Regions from separate parts of the Homo sapiens genome. Here region 2 is linked to region 1. The links come from fine-mapping of genetic effects on gene expression. A gene starts in region 1. The other region holds a variant in brackets. All regions are shown on one strand. Distances are between the middles of the regions. Region 1 holds the start of DEPDC7 (DEP domain containing 7). Region 2 holds the start of LINC00294 (long intergenic non-protein coding RNA 294).

Evidence for each region.
Region 2: its variant is fine-mapped to the expression of DEPDC7 in whole blood (INTERVAL, PIP above 0.99).

The regions. Positions count from the first base shown.
Region 1 is chr11:33,012,750-33,021,970 of GRCh38, reverse strand. DEPDC7 (DEP domain containing 7) reads right to left here and starts at 6,093. Exons shown (of 9, transcript NM_001077242.2): 1 at 5,943-6,093. The coding sequence starts at 6,015. LOC105376615 (a long non-coding RNA gene) reads left to right here and starts at 6,181. Exons shown (of 4, transcript XR_931167.2): 1 at 6,181-6,694. RefSeq lists silencers at 5,819-5,878, 6,199-6,248.
Region 2 is chr11:33,071,731-33,082,561 of GRCh38, reverse strand. It overlaps TCP11L1 (t-complex 11 like 1), which reads right to left. Exons shown (of 10, transcript NM_018393.4): 10 at 9,012-10,088. The coding sequence ends at 9,886. It overlaps LINC00294 (long intergenic non-protein coding RNA 294), which reads right to left and starts at 6,412. Exons shown (of 1, transcript NR_015451.1): 1 at 3,108-6,412. It also overlaps the pseudogene PIGCP1. The variant C/AC (reference allele first, on the strand shown) is at 5,835.

The DNA of each region.
Region 1 (9,221 bases):
GAGGGCGGTGAGAGGGGATATTTGGCCTCAATGAGTAGAAAAGGCTAATCTTCACAGAAGAATTAAGAGGTAAAGAATAAATTTCCCCATATTAACTTGTGGGAAATCAGGAGGTTCTGCAGGTTGTATAACACTGCATAAAAGATTAAAGAACTAGTTAGAGCAGGAGAGTAGACACCTGTGAACCACAGGTTTCCAGAGTCCTCCAGGCATGATACAATGCAGCCCTCACAGGTCCCCTCTGTTCTCACTGACCATTAATTCCCAACCATTGCATCCTGGGATATTTCCCTTCAAGCACCACCACCCACAAACTAGCTCATGTTCATACAGATGCTTTCATACACAATGTACCCTGGACTTGACAAGTAAATGTGCCAAAACCCATACCAGGATAACCTGCTTTTTAAAATGCTGACTTCACCAGCTGAACATATATGGTTTGAAACTTATTTATCGTCATTTAAAAGCTGAAATGAATATTGGTATAGCAGATCATGGCCCAGTAAGATGACTTACTGTGATTTCTAAACAGGATTTAAGAGACCAAAAATAGACAATGAATGTTTTTTAAGTCTTGCAATCAGAATTAAGGGTTCAGCTTGTCCTCAAACCTCACTTTCATATGAGCTAAACAACCTTTTAAAATCCATCACTATCTACATCTTGATGCTTCCTTACATTTGGTCAAGCATTTTCTTTTTTTTCTTTTTTTTTTTTTGAGATGGTGTCTCACTCTGTCGCCAGGCTGGAGTGCAGTGGTGCGATCTTGGCTCACTGCAACCTCCAACTCCCTGCTTCAAGTGATTTTCCTGCCTCAGCCTCCCAAGTAGCTAGGATTACAGGCACGCGCCACCACGTGCAGCTAATTTTTTTTTGTATTTTTAGTAGAGACAGGGTTTCACCATGTTGGCCAGGATGGTCTGGAACTCCTGACCTCGTGATCCACCCACCTCGGCCTCCCAAAGTGCTGGGATTACAGGTGTGAGCCACCACACCCAGCCTGGTCAAGCATTTTCTAAAAGCATCATAACAAATGGAATCAAAGAGTTTAGAGATCAGCTGTAAAAACTCTGGATAAGAGACAATCTCTGTAAGTAGGTTTCTTTATCTACTGATAAAATAGTTGAACACAATATTTTAGGTTAGTTTCAGGTCTAAACTGCCAGGGCAGGCACAGTGGCTCATGCCTCTGACCCCAGGACTTTGGGAGGCCATGGCGGGAAGATTGCTTGAGGCCAGGAGTTCGAGGTTACAGTGGGCTAGGATCGCACCACTGCACTCCAGCCTGGGTGACAGAGTGAGATCCTGTCTTTAAATAAACTGATTATAGGAATGTAAAGACTGAAATTATATCTCCTCCATTTAGATAAGGACATTGAACACCAAATATGGCAGATCTATAGGCAAGAAAGGAAGCATATGGACAAATTTGACCCTACCAGATACAAAACCTTTTGGAAGGTTGCCTAAGGAGGCTCAGGAATAATTTGATTATCTAGCCTTCAACACATAGTCTCAAGCACTATATAAATCTAGGCTAGTTAACCTTCATTTTTCAAGCAGTCTCATCCTTATTTGCTTGAAAACAATAGCTATTTTTCAAAAGCTGCCCTTCACATGTATTTGAACTCTACCATAAAAAACGTTTACCAAAAGTAAAAGTTAAACTTCTAAGATAATATTGAACACTTATATATACGTGTAGTACCAGTAATAATCATCCTCACTTCTAAGAATTCACACTAAATAACTGAGTCATAATAATTCCCTAAAAATGTAAAGAAATTACATTTACCCAAAAATTAGGGATAATCAGCATCAACCATAATCCACCCTGTCAGCAACCCTAGTCCTACTGTGAAAACCTATGAAAACCTATTTAAAGGGAAAACAATTGTATAATCACTTCAAATAGTAAGATTATATTAAATCTTTAGAAGTAGATCAATATACACATTATAAAATTGGATCCCAATGTAAGGTAAACATACACACAGAATTAATAAAACACACTACCTCTTAATGAACATATAACAAATTTGTTTCCATTCTCGGTCTTTAGACTGGACTTAAAAAAAAAAAAAAAAAAGGAACTGAATCCAGACAGTTGATGTTTCTCCATAAAACTTTTAAGAGATGGTGAGCTAGTGCCCGATTTCTTTCAGATTTCCTAGCGGTTTACAGAGGTTTAAATTATTTAATTGCCTTACAGATTGCCTCAATATAATACAATTGGTTAGTCAATATTTGTTAGTTGTTAATTATTGCTAACTACTAAAAAACTTACTTTTTTTTCTTTTTTGAGACAGAGTCTCACTTTGTCATCCAGGTTGGAATGCAGTGGTGTGATCTCGGCTCACTGCAACCTCTGCCTCCTGGGTTCAAGCGATTCTCCTGCCTCAACCTCCTGAGTAGCTGGGATTACAGGTGTGCGCCACTACACCCAGACAATTTTTGGATTTTTAGTAGAAATGGGGTTTTGTCGCATTGGCCAGGCTGGTCTCAAACTCCTGGCCTCAAATGATCCACCTGCCTCAACCTCCCAAAGTGCTGGCATTACAGGTGTGAGCCACTACACCCCGTTCATAAAAAAAATTTTTAAAGGAAGGTTAACCCAGTGGTTCTCAGTGGGTGATTATACCCCCAACAGGACATGTCTGGAGACATTTTTGATTGTCACAATGAGTGTGGGTATTGCTGGCATCCAGTGGGTAGAGGGATGCTACTAAACATCTTACAATGCACAGACAGCACCCACAACAAAGAAAACGTCAGTAGTGCCAAGGTTAAGAAACCTTGGGTTGACTGAATACTGTTCAGACATGGAAACTTGAGTTAACGCAGCAGACACAGTGCTAGGTGCTGTGACTACAAAGAGTTAGACCAGTGTGGACTCTGCAGTCCCAGGGACCTGAGTTCCGTTGTTGGGTCCATCATTTACTAATAACACGATCTTGGGCAAACTGCCTAACTTTTCTGTTGCAAAACAGAGCTAACTCCACTTCTCTCACTCATTGCGAGGATCATGAGACAATATGTTAATGTGTCTCGCAAAATGTCCAGAAATTAACAGATGTATCACTAAAAACAAAAGGAGCAAACTGTCACAGTCTAGAAGAGTAGATTCATTACATGACAACTGAATGTAATATAATATCTTGGATGGGATCCTGGAAGAGAACATTAGGCAAACACCAAGGGAATCTAAGTGTGGACTTCAGTTAATAATTATATGTATCAATATTGGTTCATTAATTATGACAAATGGACCATACTATTTAGTGAATCTAAAATTTTATTTTAAAAGTAGAAAGAAAAGGGAGGTATCTTTCTTCCTCTTCCTTCCTCTGAACTCAGAGGACACAGTCCCCAACCTTAGGAGTTTACCTTTTATTTACTCCTACTACCTGGATGATAATGTCAAGTTCTGAATAGTATTCAATCACATAAAGGCCAACAGGAGATGAGAAGACAAGATGTGACACATACCAGAGGATTTAACTTTTCATCAGAAAATAACACATCTATAAATCCTAGACCATTTAGGATTTAAGAGAATTTTAAGAAAGATTTTTTCAAAAGAGGTTTTAAAATATTACTCACACAAAGAATTGTCAAGACAACAAAGAAAAAGGACATTTGTTGGATAGTAACCAAAACCTCATGAAAATATTAATAGATAAATGTAAAGAGAATTGTGTTTATGGTGTTAAAACTTGACAGTTGTGACTGAGTGGAAAAATTTTCTATACTATGATCCCAAGATTACAACACTTTTACTGGATATTGGTTCTGGTAGTCCAAAGTTTATTTTCCTGCTAGTTGGCATTAGAGGCGTCATGCTGAAGACTGCGATTGCCTCTGAAAAGAAGGCTGCAGGTAGGTAAAAGAAGTCTACCAACAAGAAAAATTTACAATATCTACGAGAATTATCAGCAAAAGCAGACATTGGTCTCTGCTTTAATTCACATACATTAATGAGACAGCATATGGGAAGTACTTTGAGCTCCCTGGAAAAGTGATACCAGGCAAACTCAAAGAATTAGGTTACAGTATAAAGGGATAACAGGATAACAGACTACTTTCTTGTTTGTCGTATTAAAAGACAAGTGTTTTTGACATACTGGCTGAAGACTGGCATATAGATCTCATTTCTTGTACATAAATCAGGTCCCTGGTCATTACAGCCCCTTTAAGGTAAGTGAGAGTTACTAATCGGTGGAGAAACAAAAGTACAAAGCTGCCTGCCAGAGCACACAGAAAGAGAATGGCAAAGAACCAATAACCGTGTGCTCCCACTACCTTGCTCACTGGAACTATGACAAGGCAACTAAAGGGTGAAAGAAAGGCTAACAAATGTTACCAGGTCGGGATTCCAGCGGTAGCAAGCAAAACGAGTGAGAACAACAGCGGGCCCCTCTCCGTCCACTGCAGCTAGTGTGCCGAGGACAGTGTTCCTTTGATTCCTGATAACCAGCACTTCAACTCTTCCCTTAGAGAGTTATCTACTTAATTTCTGAATACATACTTCCTTACACCATCTAAGAACCTGTTCACAAATGCCCAAAGCTCCAGAATTGGTATTTCAGCTATTAGAGAAAACAGGGTACCATGTTTTTATTTTAAGCAGGTGACATTTGGGAATTTCCTTCACTGAGTAAGTGGGCCCAAAAGATTTCTCAAGACTGTTTTCAATGTCATTTGGTTTTAAATTCCCAAATGTCTTAGCATTTGTCTTCTCTTCACAACATAAATCAAGGAGACATTCTCAATGTGGCCACTATGTGCTTACCTGAATCCTTTACATGGAAGCAGACTAAGGTCAATATTATGATTTTTCTTAGAAAAGGACAAGTGAAAAATGGTTCTCTACCATAATCTGTCGTTAGCATTTTGAAGATTAAAATGAGCATTAGTGAGTAAGTCAAACACAAGAGTGGGGCCACTGAGAAGCACCCATTTGACCCAGAGGAAGGAATCACAGTTTCACTGGTTGGTGTTTTTACAAATGAAAGGCTTTTGTCAGAAAGGGAACTAATTCCTACGACATCCCAGACTGGAGCTCCAGAAAGGGGAAAAAGTTGTAACTTAACCAAAAGAAAAAAGCCAAGGGTTATCTGAGTATCTTAACAGTTATCTGAGTCACCCCTATTAACTGGGTTGTAGATCTGCTATAACCAGCATTTTAGAAGTGATATCCGATTCTCTTCATGTGTTTGAACATTTAAAGAAACCAGAATCCTAAATCAACTGCCCCCAAAAGACACGATTAGGCCCGTGGCAGAATTTGCCAACTTCCCTCCTAATTTCATGTAACTGTTTTTTTAGCCAAAAACTTCTATTCACTAAAATACTGCTTATACATAAAGTGTTAATAAATACCTTTTATGCCAAATTCCTGCCAGTAGAACTCACATAAACCTCTCATCCCTCCCAGGAAGAGTCTGGGGAGACAAGCTGACTCTTGACTCCTAGCAGTCTGGAGAACAAAGTGGGCAAGGGAGGAGCTCGGCCCCTGGCCATACTGTGTCGTCAAGGTTTGTGGTTGAGACAGGGGGCAAAGAACTACACAAATTCCAGATACCACACTTGTCACCGGTAGCACCGCGGAGCATATCCCGGAGCTCCCCGGCGCGTGCCTGGCACGTTAGCGGGCGCACAGACCAACGCGCGGTCAAGTTGAGAGTCTGGGTAGAAAGAAAAAAGCTGGGCTGTGCGGGCGGGCTCTGCCGCTTGCAGCCCACCAGCCAGAGAGGAACTCGATCCGCCCGCTCGGCGGGGGCGTTGGCCAAGTGGTCGCAGCTGTGCTGTGCTCGCCCAGCCGGCCGTTGACAGGCGCAGGCGGCCGAACGCCCCACGCCGCCCGCCCCGCGCCGGGACCCAGCCCGCGCACCCCAGCCCGCCCCGCGCCATCCCAGGCGGCAGTCCTCGGCACCTACCCGGAGGCCTGTGCGCGGGGCTGTGGAGAGCCGAGAGGTTCAGCGCAGCAGCCTTCTCCTGCACGGTGGCCATGGCCCTTGCTCCCCGGACGCCAACTCCTCCAGCAGCTTCACAGCTCCCTAGCTCCCTGAGCGCCCGTCTGTTAACTGTGCGGGGCGTGGCTCCCTGCAGGCCCCGCCCCCGCTGCCGGTCACGTGTCTCTCTGGCAACCACTGAACGTAGCCCGCGGCGCCAGCGATCCAAGTTTCCTCGGGCGCGATGCCACGCGAGCGGTGGTCGGGGACAAAGCGGTTCCCTGGGCCGGCACTACGCGGCCCGCGGCTCACACCAGCGGGATTCGAACCGCGGCCTGCCGTAGATTAACTCGGGACCAGGCCGGGCGCGGTGGCTCACGCCTGTAATCCCAGCACTTTGGGAGGCCAGGGCAGGTAGAGCACCTGAGGTCAGGAGTTCGAGAGCAGCCTGGCCTACATGGCGAAACCCCTTCTCTACTAAAAATACAAAAATTAGCTGGGCTTGGTGACAGGCGCCTGTAATCCCAGCTACTCGGGAGGCCGAGGCACAAGAATCGCTTGAACTCAGGAGGCGGAGGTTGCAGTGAGCCGAGATCCACCACTGCACTCCAGCCTGGGCGACACAGCGAGACTCCGTCTCAAAAAAAAAAAAAAAAAAAAAAGAAATAGAAAAAGTCGGGAACCTGGCAAGCTGCCTAACTGCTCTGTGCGTCGGTGTCCTCACCTGTGATGCGGGGGTAGGTTTAGTACCTGCTTCACTGAGATGTTTGTTTGTTTTTTAACGAGGTTTATAGGAACCAATTCAGGTTCAGCATTTAGTAACTGCGTCCGGAACGTAAGTGCTTAAAATTATGTCATAGTAGTAGTAGTAATAGTGATAATAACAATAATAATCGAGTTTTTCAGACATCCCTACCTGTGCAGAACAAACAAATCCTATGTGGCCCAGGAGAGCAATGTCTAGAGGTCACAGGAGGGCAGCAACGAAAGACCCTGGGACTGGCTGCCAGGAAATCTGTGCTGCCTCCAAAGGAACTGTGGGTCGGGTGGGTAGGGACAGTTTGCTGCCGGTTGGAGTGAAGGTGAGGAGAGAAAAGGAGGAAGGGCTATTAATGGGACACATCTTAGTTACTTGGAAGTTGAAGCCAGGCCAGGGATCCAATGCTGGATACCTCTGAAAGGATGAGTGGTCTTAGAGACCAATAATCCAATTGCCAGACACTTGCCCTTTTTTTTTTCTTTTTTTTCAAGTTTGGGAATTTTGCAATGATTTTCAAAACGATTATGACGTCTTCTTAGAAGGAGGATGCTTGTGTGATTTAGGTGTAAATTAGAATGGTGTTTAAGTGGGAGTTCATTATTTAGCTTATTGGAAAGAGCTTCTACATGGGATTGTTTCAGAGAATACATACTAAGAAGCTGCCCCTGGGGACTTGGGTTTGTGGGTGGGAGGTGGGGGCCAGTTGCTGCTGCTTAGTGTTAGAAAAAGCTGGCCAGGCACGGTGGCTCACGCCTGTAGTCCCAGCACTTTGGGGGGCCCGAGGCAGGGGGATCTTCGAGGTCAGGAGTTCGAGAACAGCCTGGCCAAGATGGCGAAACCCCTACTAAAAATACAAAAACTGTCCGAGTGTGGTGGCAGGCACCTGTAATCCCAGCTACTTGGGAAGCTGAGGCAGGAGAATCGCTTGAATCCAGGAGGCGGAAGTTGCAATGAGCGAAGATTGTGCCACTGCACTCCAGCCTGGATGACAGAGTGAGACTCCATCTCAAAAAAGAAAAAAAAAGGTTGCCAACCAGTTGGCAACCTTTTTTTAATGTGACCTCTTCCCCTGATGGTAGTAAAACCCTGCTTTACTTCTGTTTAAGGATTTTCTTTGTAATCTCTCAATTGGCTGCTACACACAGAAAGAGGATGCATTCAGGGCTGGTTTCAGGCACCCAGTATACCAATGAACTTTATCCCGTGCTGTATAACTGAATGAACACACAAGTCCTCCCTCACTGCATGGGAGGGGGGAAAAGCTCATCTGTCTCAGAAGACAAATCTTGAAAAACACTAATATTTGAAAAAGCTTGGTGACCTCAGTGACCATTTTGATACTTTATATAACATTTCAGAGAGTTTTTCACCAGGTTATGCAATAATTGTTTACCTCTTCTGGAATGCTGAAATGTTCATCTCTACTCAGATACTTTCTACAACCATGGGATAGGAAATGCCTATCCCTTTTCCCACTTTCTTCCCTGGACAGATTTTTCCAGGTTACCCGGGTGTGTTTTTTTTCTCTGAGCACCTGTGGCACTTATCAAATGCATTACTATTCATCTCCTGCTTGTATTGATACTCTCTGATTATTACAGCACACACATATCTTTTTTTATTATAATTTAAGTTCTAGGGTACATGTGCACAACATGCTGGTTTGTTACATATGTATACATGTGCCATGTTGGTGTGCTGCACTCATTAACTCGTCATTTACATTAGGTATATCTCCTAATGCTATCCCTCCCTGCTCCACCGACCCCACGACAGGCCCCAGTGTGTGATGTTCCCCTTCCTGTGTCCAAGTGTTCTCATTGTTCAATTCCCACCTATGAGTGAGAACCTGTGGTGTTTGGTTTTTTGTCCTTGCGATAGTTTGCTGAGAATGATGGTTTCCAGCTTCATCCATGTCCCTACAAAGGACATGAACTCATCCTTTTTTTATGGCTGCATAGTATTCCATGGTGTATATGTGCCACATTTTCTTAATCCATTCTATCATTGATGGATATTTGGGTTGGTTCCAAATCTTTGCTATTGTGAATAGTGCTGCAGTGAACATACGTGTGCATGTGTCTTTATAGCAGCATGATTTATAATCCTTTGGGTATATACTCAGTAATGGAATGGCTGGGTCAAATGGTATTTCTAGTTCTAGATCCTTGAGGAATTGCCACACTGTCTTCCACAATGGTTGAACTAGTTTACAGTCCCACCAACAGTGTAAAAGTGTTCCTGTTTCTCCACATCCTCTCCAGCATCTGTTGTTTCCTGACTTTTTAATGATCGCCATTCTAACGGGAGCACACACATATCTTAATTGCCTAAGAAAATTGGAAAATTGCCGGGTGTGGTGGCTCATGCTTGTAATCCCAGCACTTTGGGAGGCCAAGGCTAGCAGATCACCTGAGGTCAGGAGTTCGAGACCAGCCTGACCAACATGGAGAAACCTCGTCTCTACTAAAAATACAAAATTAGCCAGGCGTGGTGGTGCATGC
Region 2 (10,831 bases), 60 kb before region 1:
TGCCATGTGCTGAAGAGGGTTTTATGTACTACTGAGAATGCCAGTGTTGCAGTGAGCTAACTTGCAGGTGTCTGGTGATAAGTTGGGTGCAGTACGGCTACATGTCCTGGACCATGAAGAAAGGCAGACTCATAATTTATCTGCTTTTCCCTGCTCCCACCAGCCTGACTCCCTTTCCCTAATTAGGACTCCACAGTTAGTGTTTTGAAGACAAACAGGCCGGGCGAGGTGGCGCACGCCTATAATCACAGCACTTTGGGAGGCCAAGGTAGGCGGATCACCTGAGGTCAGGAGTTCAAGACCAGCCTGACCAACATGGTGAAACCCTGTCTCTACTAAAAATACAAAATTAGCCAGGTATGGTGGCACATGCCTGCAATCCCAGCTACTTGGGAGGCTGAGGCAGGAGAATTGCTTGAACCTGGGAAGGAGATGTTGCAGTGAGCCGAGATCGCACCATTGCACTCCAGCCTGGGCATCAAGAGCGAAACTCCGTCTCAAAAAAAAAAAAAGAAGACAAAACAGTTTCAAATACCTGTAAGTGATCTGCCAAAGTGTTCCCACAGACAATAAAACAAAGCCATGCGAACATGTGTGAAAAACCATTTTTTAGCGTGTGTGCGCGTGCGTGCGTGCACACACGCACACACACACTTGGTGAAAAGTGTCTTTAATCACTTTATTAGTCCATTCCCACAATGCTATAAAGAAATACCTGTGACTGGGTAATTTTTAAAGAAAAGAAGCTTAACTGGCTCATGGTTCCGTAGGCTGTATAGATAGATTAGTGGCATTTGCTTCTGGAGAAGCTTCAGGAAATGTATAATCACGGCAGAAGGTGAAGGGGAAGAGGGACGTTTTACACGGCCAGGGCAGGATGAAGAAAGGGGGGAGGTGCCACACACTTTTAAACAACCAGATTCCATGAGAACTCACTGTCACAAGAACAGCACCGAGAGGATGGTGCTAACCCTTTCATGGGAACTTCACCCCCCTGGACCAACACCTCCCACCAAGCCCTACCTCCAACACTGGGGATTACAATTTGACATGAGATTTGGTGGGGACACAGATTCAAACCATATCAATTATTATTAAGGCTACTATGTATATTATAATTGTTCCTATTGCATTTATTTATAGGATTTTTTTCTCCTAGAAATGATCAGCTCTTTGAGCATAAAAAGGATTCTCATTAGAAGAAAACATTTTCGAATGTTCTAACTGCTAGAGATATGTATGAATTTTTAGTTTTTAAGGTGATTCTGCCTGATATTTGATAATTCCTTTTGTTAAACAGTTCAACAAGCAGCATGATGTTAGACATCTGAACTTACCTTTGGAAATCTAATGTGCAGACTCATGGGATAATCAGTCCTACAATTCCAAGGACTCATATCAGTATTGCTGGACCCAAAGAAATTGCCAAAAGATATCCATCTTTTTCCTGTTTATAAAAGCAATGACAGCATCTCCTCAAGATTCTAGAACTAGACAAAAGTTTCAAGGACTATATGTATGTCCTTCCTAAACAAAAATTAGTCAAACTCTGGCCTTTACCACTAAACTTCAAACAAGAGGTTGCACCTATGTGGCCACATCTAGTACAGTAAAAGGTTAATAGAAACTACTAGTAAACTTTCTGAACAACCAAACTGTACCAAAGAAAAAGAAGGAAAAACACATCATTTCTGTTAGTATATTGACCCTGGTCAATAATTATGAATTTATTTGATATTATAACCCTGTATTGGCCTATAGTTAATAAATGTTGAGTTCAATTTTATTAAACCATAGTCATCATGGTCATAAATTATTATTATTATTTTTTTTAACATGGTAGTTCTTTGACTGTGGCAATGAGCAAGTGAACTTACGTTTTACTTAATAAAAATTTCAGCCAGGCACGGTGGCTCACATATATAATCCCAGCACTTTGGGAGGCCAAGGCGAGCAAATCACCTGAGGTCAGGAGTTCAAGACCAGCCTGGGCAGCATGGTGAAATCCTATCTCTACTAAAAATACAAAAATCAGCCGGGCATGGTGGCGCACACCTGTAATCCCAGCCACTCGGGGAGGCTGAGGCAGGAGAATTGCTTGAGCTTGGGAGCTGAGATTGTGCCACTGCACTCCAGCCTGGACAACAGAGTGAGACTCCATCTCAAAAACAAACAATCAAAACAAAAGAAAACAAAAATTTTCATAAGTCTTTTTGTTTGTTTTGAGACATGATCACAGCATAATCCTCCCACCTCAGCCTCCCAAGTAGCTGGGACCACAGGCATGCACCACCATCCACCATACCCAGCTAATTTTTTAAATTTTATGTAGAAACAGGATCTACCTGTGTTGTCCAGCCTGGTCTTGACCTCCTGGGCTCAAGCAGTCCTCCCACGTCAGCCTCCCAAACTGCTGGGATTAGCCACCATGTGAAGCCCTTCTTTTTTTTATTTTTTATTTTCTTGAGATAGGGTCTCACTTTGTCACCCAGGCTGGAATGCAGTGGCATGATCTTGGCTGAATGCAACCTCTGCCTCCCGGGCTCGAGCAATCCTCCCACTTCAGCCTGCTGAGATGGGAGCACAGGCCTATGCCACCACGCCTGGCTAATTTTTGTACTTTTAGTAGAGACAAGGTTTTGCCATGTTGCCCAGGCCGGTCTAGAGTTCCTGGCCTCAAATGATCTGCCTGCCTCGGCCTCCCAAAGTTCTGAGATTACAGGCGTGAGCCACCTTGCCCAGCCCCTCTTGTTTTAAGGTTACTTTTAAGTCAAGAAAAGTGACACTCCATCGAACCAGGCCTATAGCTTAGTTCTGGTTCTTAAGTTCGGTAGGCAATAAATGTAAGTCAGGTGTGACAGAAACCCACATGAGGGACAGTTTTAAGTAGAATTATATGTTTAGACTTTTAACACATATTTTGTAGAACTCTGGCTATTTCTGAAAGTACCAGTGAACACTTGATCGTTTAATAAACAGAGCTTACCTGGGCTTAAAGATTATCCCCTTCCCCACCCATTGAAGTTGCTTTGAATACTATGACTAAAAAGGCTTTCCATTAAAATAATTATATAATGCAAAATCCAATATAAATACACACTTGCAAATATCATTGTAGTTATTTATTTAGATTGTTTTTAAATGAGATAGTGCCTTTAAATATGACTTCATAGCCCATTATCCATTACCATTCATTCATCCACTCATTTGTTCATTCATGAATTCATTTAGTTCAAATAATATAGAGGTGGAGATGGGGAGAAATCACTGGGGTGGGGGTGGATGTCAGGAAGTAAGCAAATGTAAGACTGCAGCTCTAGTATAGAAGAGATGATGAACATAAACAAGTCTTAGGAGAGGACAGGAAGAAAACCTTCCCTGTAGGCCCGTAAAATGTGCTTGAATGAAGGGAGGTTGGGCGCTACCAGTGGAACGTAACACCACAGCAAATGTGCGCCCACAGGTAGAGGGTTACATGTTCGCCTTTGTAGTTAAAAAAGAAAGGTATAGTCCTTTTCCATGTACAAAGCATTCTATCATTCATTACCAAATGTAATCCTCACAGCAACAGTGTGAATTAGGAGTGTTCCCATTTAACAATGAAAATGCCGAGGCCTTGGGGAGAATGGCTGGTCCAATGTTGTACAACCGGTAAGGCGGCGATAGAGGAGAAAAGACTAAAACCCAGATCTTTCTCTAAATTAGGAGCTTTGTGCACAATCCTGCTACCACCAAATGTTAGAATCGGAAGGGAGCTTAAAGACCAAGTCTAGTCCTTTCATTTTAAAGGAGTTGGGAATGGGCCCTGATTTGCCCCAGCTGGTACATAACAGAGTGGAGATCCAAGCCTTGGTTTCCTGACAGCTCCCAGTCTTTCCACTCTACCACCTGGCCTCAAAATGAAAAGAAACACAAATGTTCTACCTATAAATCAGAGCTCGCCAAAAGGTCACTAGAAATCAAACAGCAAACACCTATTCTCTTTGAAATTCACCAGCAAAGCTGGTGGCAGCAACATTTCCTCTATTCCCAGGAATCTTAAGGCTTTGGAGAAATGAGAATAAGCACCTCCACAAAAACAGAACCGCTGAATAATCCATTTAGAATCTTGGCCAGTATGTGCATACTATAGGCCTATTAAGTCAAACTTATTAATAGCTTTTCTTCACAGAGAAAAAAGTTCATATATACCTACTGACTGCATTTGATCAGTAAGATATCATGTCAGTGTCCTTCTTACCTGAAGTACATTTATGGCTGGGTCATATCGTGACATAAATAATCACATTTTGTAGCTTGCTTTAGACGGAATGCGATTTTTTTTTTTTTTGAGACGGAGTCTCGCTCTGTCACCCAGGCTAGAGTGCAATGGCGCAATCTCGGCTCATTGCAACCACCACCTCCAGGGTTCAAGTGATTCTCCTGCCTCAGCCTCCCGAGTAGCTGGGATTACAGGCACGTGCCACCACACCCGGCTAATTTTTGTATTTTTAATAGAGATGGGTTTTGCCATGTTGGTAAGGCTGGTTTCGAATTCCTGACCTCAGGTGATCTGCCCGCCTCAGCCTCCCAAAGTGCTAGGATTACAGGCGTGAGCCACCGCGCCCGGCTGGAATGAGATTTTTAAAAACACCAGGACTGAGAATCCATCCACCCAACCAAGAGCCAACAAAGTAGTAGTTACTTTAAACATTCACTTATCCATGAGACTACTGAAGAAATCCAAGAGGCTTGGTGATACTGACCTCACTCTCAGTTCTATCCACAAGTAGTAAAGTACTGCCAAATACACTTAGCAATTTCAGGAAAAGACACTTGTCTCCACAACCTGTTACTGAATGCAGCATATAGAATCCATTCGATTCTGGAGGACAACACACTCCAAAGGATGTTTCGTTTTGGAAGGAGAGCTGTAGGGGAAGGTACAGGGGGATGCTTAGCAATGCTTCCTGAGTGACTAAATGAACGAAGTGGATCTCCCTGGCCCTTAGTAATAATCCTATGAGATTCCAGGAAGAAAATTAGCTTATCTTCATAGAGCAACAACAAAATGATTCAATATGAATATTGTGGTTCTGAAGTTTGCTTCCTTCATTCTTGACTTTTGCCAGTTGCAGAACTCCACCAGTGGACACCGAGGTAGTGGGCGGCCAAGAGTCTGTGAAGCCAGTTATTCATGCATCAAGATTTCAAACGGTCCAAATGGAACTCTGGCAATGTAAGAACTCAGGAGGGGAAAAATATCTTGCAAGAATCTACTCTTACAAAAGAAGAGTTTTTGAGATTTAGGAAGAATGACTGCAGGAAGTGGTGATCAGCGCTGTGCAGTTGGGGTTAAGCTCCTCTCCTTCAGCCTTGGAGCGGCAGGAAAAGGCCCCAAACACTCTGAGGCTGAGGCTTCTCTGCCCAGGAACCCAGGATCATACAACCGCCAGGCACAGTGGCCACAGAGCAGCCTCCACCTTAAGGGAACAATTCCAGACACGACCTCATTGAATACACCATGGAAGATGTTATCTTCTTTAAAAGTACCCTCATGGCAGGGCGCAGTGGCTCACGCCTACAATCCCAGCACTTTGGGAGGCCAAGGCGGGTGGATCACGAGGTCAGGAGATCGAGACCATCCTGGCTAACACGGTGAAACCCCGTCTCTACTAAAAATACAAAAAAATTAGCCAGGCATGGTGGCAGGCGCCTGTAGTCCCAGCTACTTGGGAGGCTGAGGCAGGAGAATGGCGTGAACCTGGGAGGCAGAGGTTGCAGTGAGCCGAGATCGCGCCACTGCACTCCAGCCTGGGCGACAGAGCAAGACTCCATCTCAAAAAAAAAAAAAA[C/AC]CCTTACAAGGAAAAAGGCAGGCAACTGCCATCTCCCAGTCACGCATCCCCAGGAACTTGGCTGTATTATATCCTGCCTCAGAGACAAACTCATCTATTGTAGGCCTGGCCTGGATTGCTGCCTTTGAAAACAAGGAAAGGTCAGCAGAATATCAACCAAGGCATGGAATTTCCAGGGAGGTCTCATTTCAAAATGTCATCAACAAGAACCACATGGACCTCTGTGAGAGGGATGATTAAACTAGCCTGAGTTTGAATGAAAGGATTATGTGTACCCAACCTGTAACAAACACCAAGGAGGTAAAGTGGCAGAGGGTCTTGTATGAGCAACAGCCCTTTCCTGATAACTTTGTGGACCGGCGGTTCCTGGAAGAGCTCTGGAAAAACATCCATGCTCGGAAATACCAATATTGGGCTATGGTATTTGAGTCCAGTGTGGTGATCCCGCAGCTGTGCAGTGTTTTTGTTTTTCTGGTTATCTGGTGGTATATGGATGAGGGTCTTCTGGCCCCCCAATGGCTTTTTGGGACTGGCCTGGCTTCTTCACTGATTGGGTATGTTTTGTTTGATCTCACTGATGGAGGTGAAGGGCAGAAGAGTGGGTGGACCCGGTGGGCTGACCTGAAGAGTGCCCTAGTCTTCATTACTTTCACTTATGGCTTTTCACCAGTGCTAAGACCCTGACAGAGTCTGTCAGCACTGACACCATCTATGCCATGTCAGTCTTCATGCTGGTAGGCCACCTCATCTTTTTTAACTATGGTGCCAATGATGCCTTTGTATCCACTGTATCCAGCACACTATCCTTGAACATGGCCATCTTTGCTTCTGGATGCTTGGCTTCCACCTTCCCCAGTCCCTGCATGTCTTCATCATGGGAACACTTGCCATCCAGATTTTTGTCCTGTGGCTCATGCTACAGAAGAAACTAAAGGCACGGACTCCCAAGGGCTATGTGGTGGTCACACTGCTTTTTGCCTTTTCGGTCTTGGAAGGCCTACTGCCTATTAGTGCTGTGGGAGCCGTACTCTTTGCCCTTCTGTTGATTTCTATCTCATGTCTCTGTCCATTTTACCTCATTCGCCTGCAGCTTTTTAAAGAAAATATTCAGAGGCCTTGGGATGAAGCTGAAATCAAGGAAGACTTGTCTAGGTTCCTCAGCTAAATTAGGGACATTCTGATAGACTAGCCTCCTAACTAGTATAAAACTTAAAGACAGGCCGGGTGTGGTGGCTCACGACTGTAATCACAGCACTCTGGGAGGCCCGAGGCGGATGGATCACGAGGTCAAGAGTTCGAGACCAGCCTGGCCAACATGGTGAAACCCCGTCTCTACTAAGAATCCAAAAATTAGCCGGGCATGGTGGCGCGTGCCTGTAATCCCAGCTATTCAGGAGGCTGAGGCAGGAGAATCGCTTGAAACCGGGAGATGGAGGTTGCAGTAAGCTGAGATCGCGCCACCACACTCCAGCCTGGGTGACAGAGCAAGACTCCGTCTTGAAAAAATAAAAAATGAACCAAAGGCTTGGGTGGTGAGGGTGCTTATCCTTTCTGTAATTCTGTGGATGAAAAAGCTTTCTGGGACCCTCTTGAATTATTCGCTGTAACAAATGAAGTGATGTGGTTTCTATTAAAAAAATAATAATGCATTCAAACAAACAAAAATAAATAAATATGAATAAAAGTACCCTCACAAAATGCAGCCAGTCTGCCAGATTACAGTGACCCAGATTCTCCAGTCTCCTGCCTGGGACCCAAAAAGATACATCTGGCTCTACTTTTTTTTGTTAAGGAGAGACAGGGTCTGGCTCTGTCACCCAGGCTGGAGTACAGTGGCATGATCATAGTTCACTGCAGCCTCAAACTCCTGGGCACAAGTGATCCTTTTGCCTCAGCCTCAGCTTGTAGCTGGGAGTACAACTGTGTGCCACCACAACAGGCTAATTTTTTTTGTATTTTTTGTAGAGACATGATCTCACTATGTTGCCTAGGCTGGACTTGAAATCCTGGGTTCAGATGATGCTCCTGCCTTGGCATTCCAAAGTACTGGGATTATAGTGTAAGCCACCATGCCCAGCCCTGTTTTTTGTTTTGTTTTTTTAATTTATCACATCATTATAGATTAGAACCAACATCAGTGCTGATCTGCATACATGTAATTTCTACCTGAGTTTCTATAGCCAGATCCAAGTCCTTGTATAAACCCTGGGACCATCAGCAATCTCAAAAATCCTGAAAGCAGAATGTATTCTGACTCTACCAGGTCTGAAATCCTTCTCATGGAGTATCTGATTTCCTCCCCATCAGTCCTATTGGAATACCTACCCAACTGCTTCTTCAAGTCTTCCTTCAAAACACAAAATCACTGCACTTCCTTACAAAGAAGGATCAGAGAAAACAGCTGCTTGCAGTAAAATGTAGCCCTTCCCCCTGGTTGTGCAGGAGTGGCTGCTGGCCTTCCTGGAGTCTTTCTGAAATGGCTTCCAAGTTTCTTTTCTTTTTTCTTTTTTTGAGACAGAGTCTCACTCTGTTGCCCAGGCTGGAATGTAGTGGTGCTATCTCAGCTCACTGCAGCCTCTGCCTCCCGGGTTCAAGCGATTCTCCTGCCTCAGCCTCCCAAGTAGCTGGGATTACAGGCGCGTGCCACCACACCCAGCTAATTTTTGTATTTTTAGTAGAGATGGGGTTTCACCATGTTGCCCAGGCTGGTCTCAAACTCCTGACCTCAGGTGATCTGCCTGCCTCGGCCTCCCAAAGTGCTGGGATTATAGGCGTGAGCCACCACGCCCGGCTAACTTGTAAGTTTCTCTTAGCTTCCTGTACAGAAGGCTTCAGGTGCCGATATTACTGCATTACTCATACAGTAATATAGTCTTACCCCTTGCTGTTGTGGCAGTTGGTCATTCCAACTTCATGGCTCTGCTTCTAATATAACATCCCTGTCTAAAATGCAGACATACATGTGTACACTTTAAAAAAAAAAAAAAAAAAAAAAAAAGAACAGATCGTCTATGAGACCCAAATCACTCACGCTCAGAGGACATGTCAGGAATTCTGGTCACTGAAGTTCCTTGAAAAATAATGCTCAAACACCAGGGATTTCCTATGACTTCCTCATCTAGGAGATTCGTGAACTCAAGCTATTTTATCTGAAAACAGTTAAATCTAATTCCAGAATTTAATTCAATCATCACATCTGTGTATTGTCTCAGGGTCAATTTTTCAGTAAGAATTCCAGACATTTCTCTTCGTTCACATTACAGTAAACTATTTTTCAATACATTTCCTCCTTGACTTTCAAGGCTTGAAAGTCAAAGACTTTCCTTTCACTAGATCTCATAAGTCATAACTGCTCTCAACCAGATGCAGGAGTAATTTTGTATAAAAGAACAAGCTTTTTAAAGTCCAATAACTGTATCTTTGGGGGAAGGTTAAAAGAATGTTTAAATACAAAAAAGAAAGTAAAAAAAAAAAGAGAGAGAGACAAATAACTCTCCTCTAGAAAAAAGGGCTTGGGAGCCCTGGCTAGGCCAGGCAGGGAGGAAGCAATAAATAGGGGGAGAAAATGGCAATAAGACGTTATATAGCCCTTCTAACAAAAATACCAGAAGGGAGGGGTGAGGGACAAGGCTGTCTGAGGGAGGGCAGGAGGTGAGGCCATGGCTTGGTCTCTTTTGCGCTTGGATGGCCGTCAGCTCAGCATGAGGCATCTGAAAGAACTACCCAGATTGCAGAAGAGAGAGGTCCCAGCCTCCTTGGAAGGACATGATGGGGGAGGAGTGGAGACAACAGCTGAGTGTTACCTGTAAAACTCGAGAACAAAATGCTTCTTTGATTTGTAAACTTGCACTCATAAATACAATCTCTCAAAATAGAATTCAGTGGATTTCTCAACAAGTCTTTTCAACAGTGATACACAATATTCTTCCCTTTGGAATCGGTGCTGTTAAATAGACATGTACTATATAGCCATTTTCCAATGCAACATTAGAGTACAGAACAGGTATTCTGTGGCTAGTGAGTAATACTGCTGCTGTAGGGTGCATACACGTTAGGATCGGACGAGGATCTTACTCAGGATTGCATCGTAGTAGGGACAGAAGACCATCTTGTTATAGTTGACCAGGCGAGCAAATTTAATAGCAACTTCCTCCAGCTCTCTCTGAACTGGACTGAGTCCCCCAGGGACTGTGGGCAATGGCTTCTGATGACCCGAGGCAAGGTAGGTTTCTAAGAAGGTCAGGATTCGAGATTCTGTGACAAAAAAGAAAGTGGTCAGTTGTTTCTTGTCCTTCACCTTACAAACCTTACTGTGCTTCAGTTCTTAGCTTAACCATCACCTCTTAGGGGAAGTTGTCCCCGATCAATACTCCCAGACCAGATACCCACAGCACCTTGCACTTCTGCATATTCATCCCATTTATAATGTTTTCTCTCCCCTCTAGATGGTTAGTTTCATGAAGGTAGGAGCCATGCTCATCTTGTTCATCATGTCTCCTCAGCACTCAGCACAGTGACTGGCATGAGACCCAGCTCCCAGGAGAAGCTCAAACACACTTGGAATGCAAGAATGAATGCATGAGTGGCCAGGCGCGGTGGCTCACGCCTGTAATCCCAGCACTTTGGGAGGCTAAGGTGGGCGGGTCACCTGAGGTCAAGAGTTCGACCAGCCTGGCCATTGTGGTGAAGCCCCGTCTCTACTAAAAATATAAAAAGTAGCCAGGTGTGGTGGCGCACACCTGTTGTCCCAGCTACTCGGGAGCCTGAGGCACAAGAATCACTTGAACCCAGGAGGTGGAGGTTACAGTGAGCTGAGATCATGCCATTGCACTCCAGCCTGGGCGACAGAGCCAGACTCTGTCCCCAAACAAAACAAAACAAAAAAAATGAATGAATGCATGAGTGAGTAAAGGAAGACTGGAGACATGCTCTGCTCTCCGAGGAGCAACACATCCTGAGACCATTGTTAGCCATCGCTGACGATCACATAAAAAGGT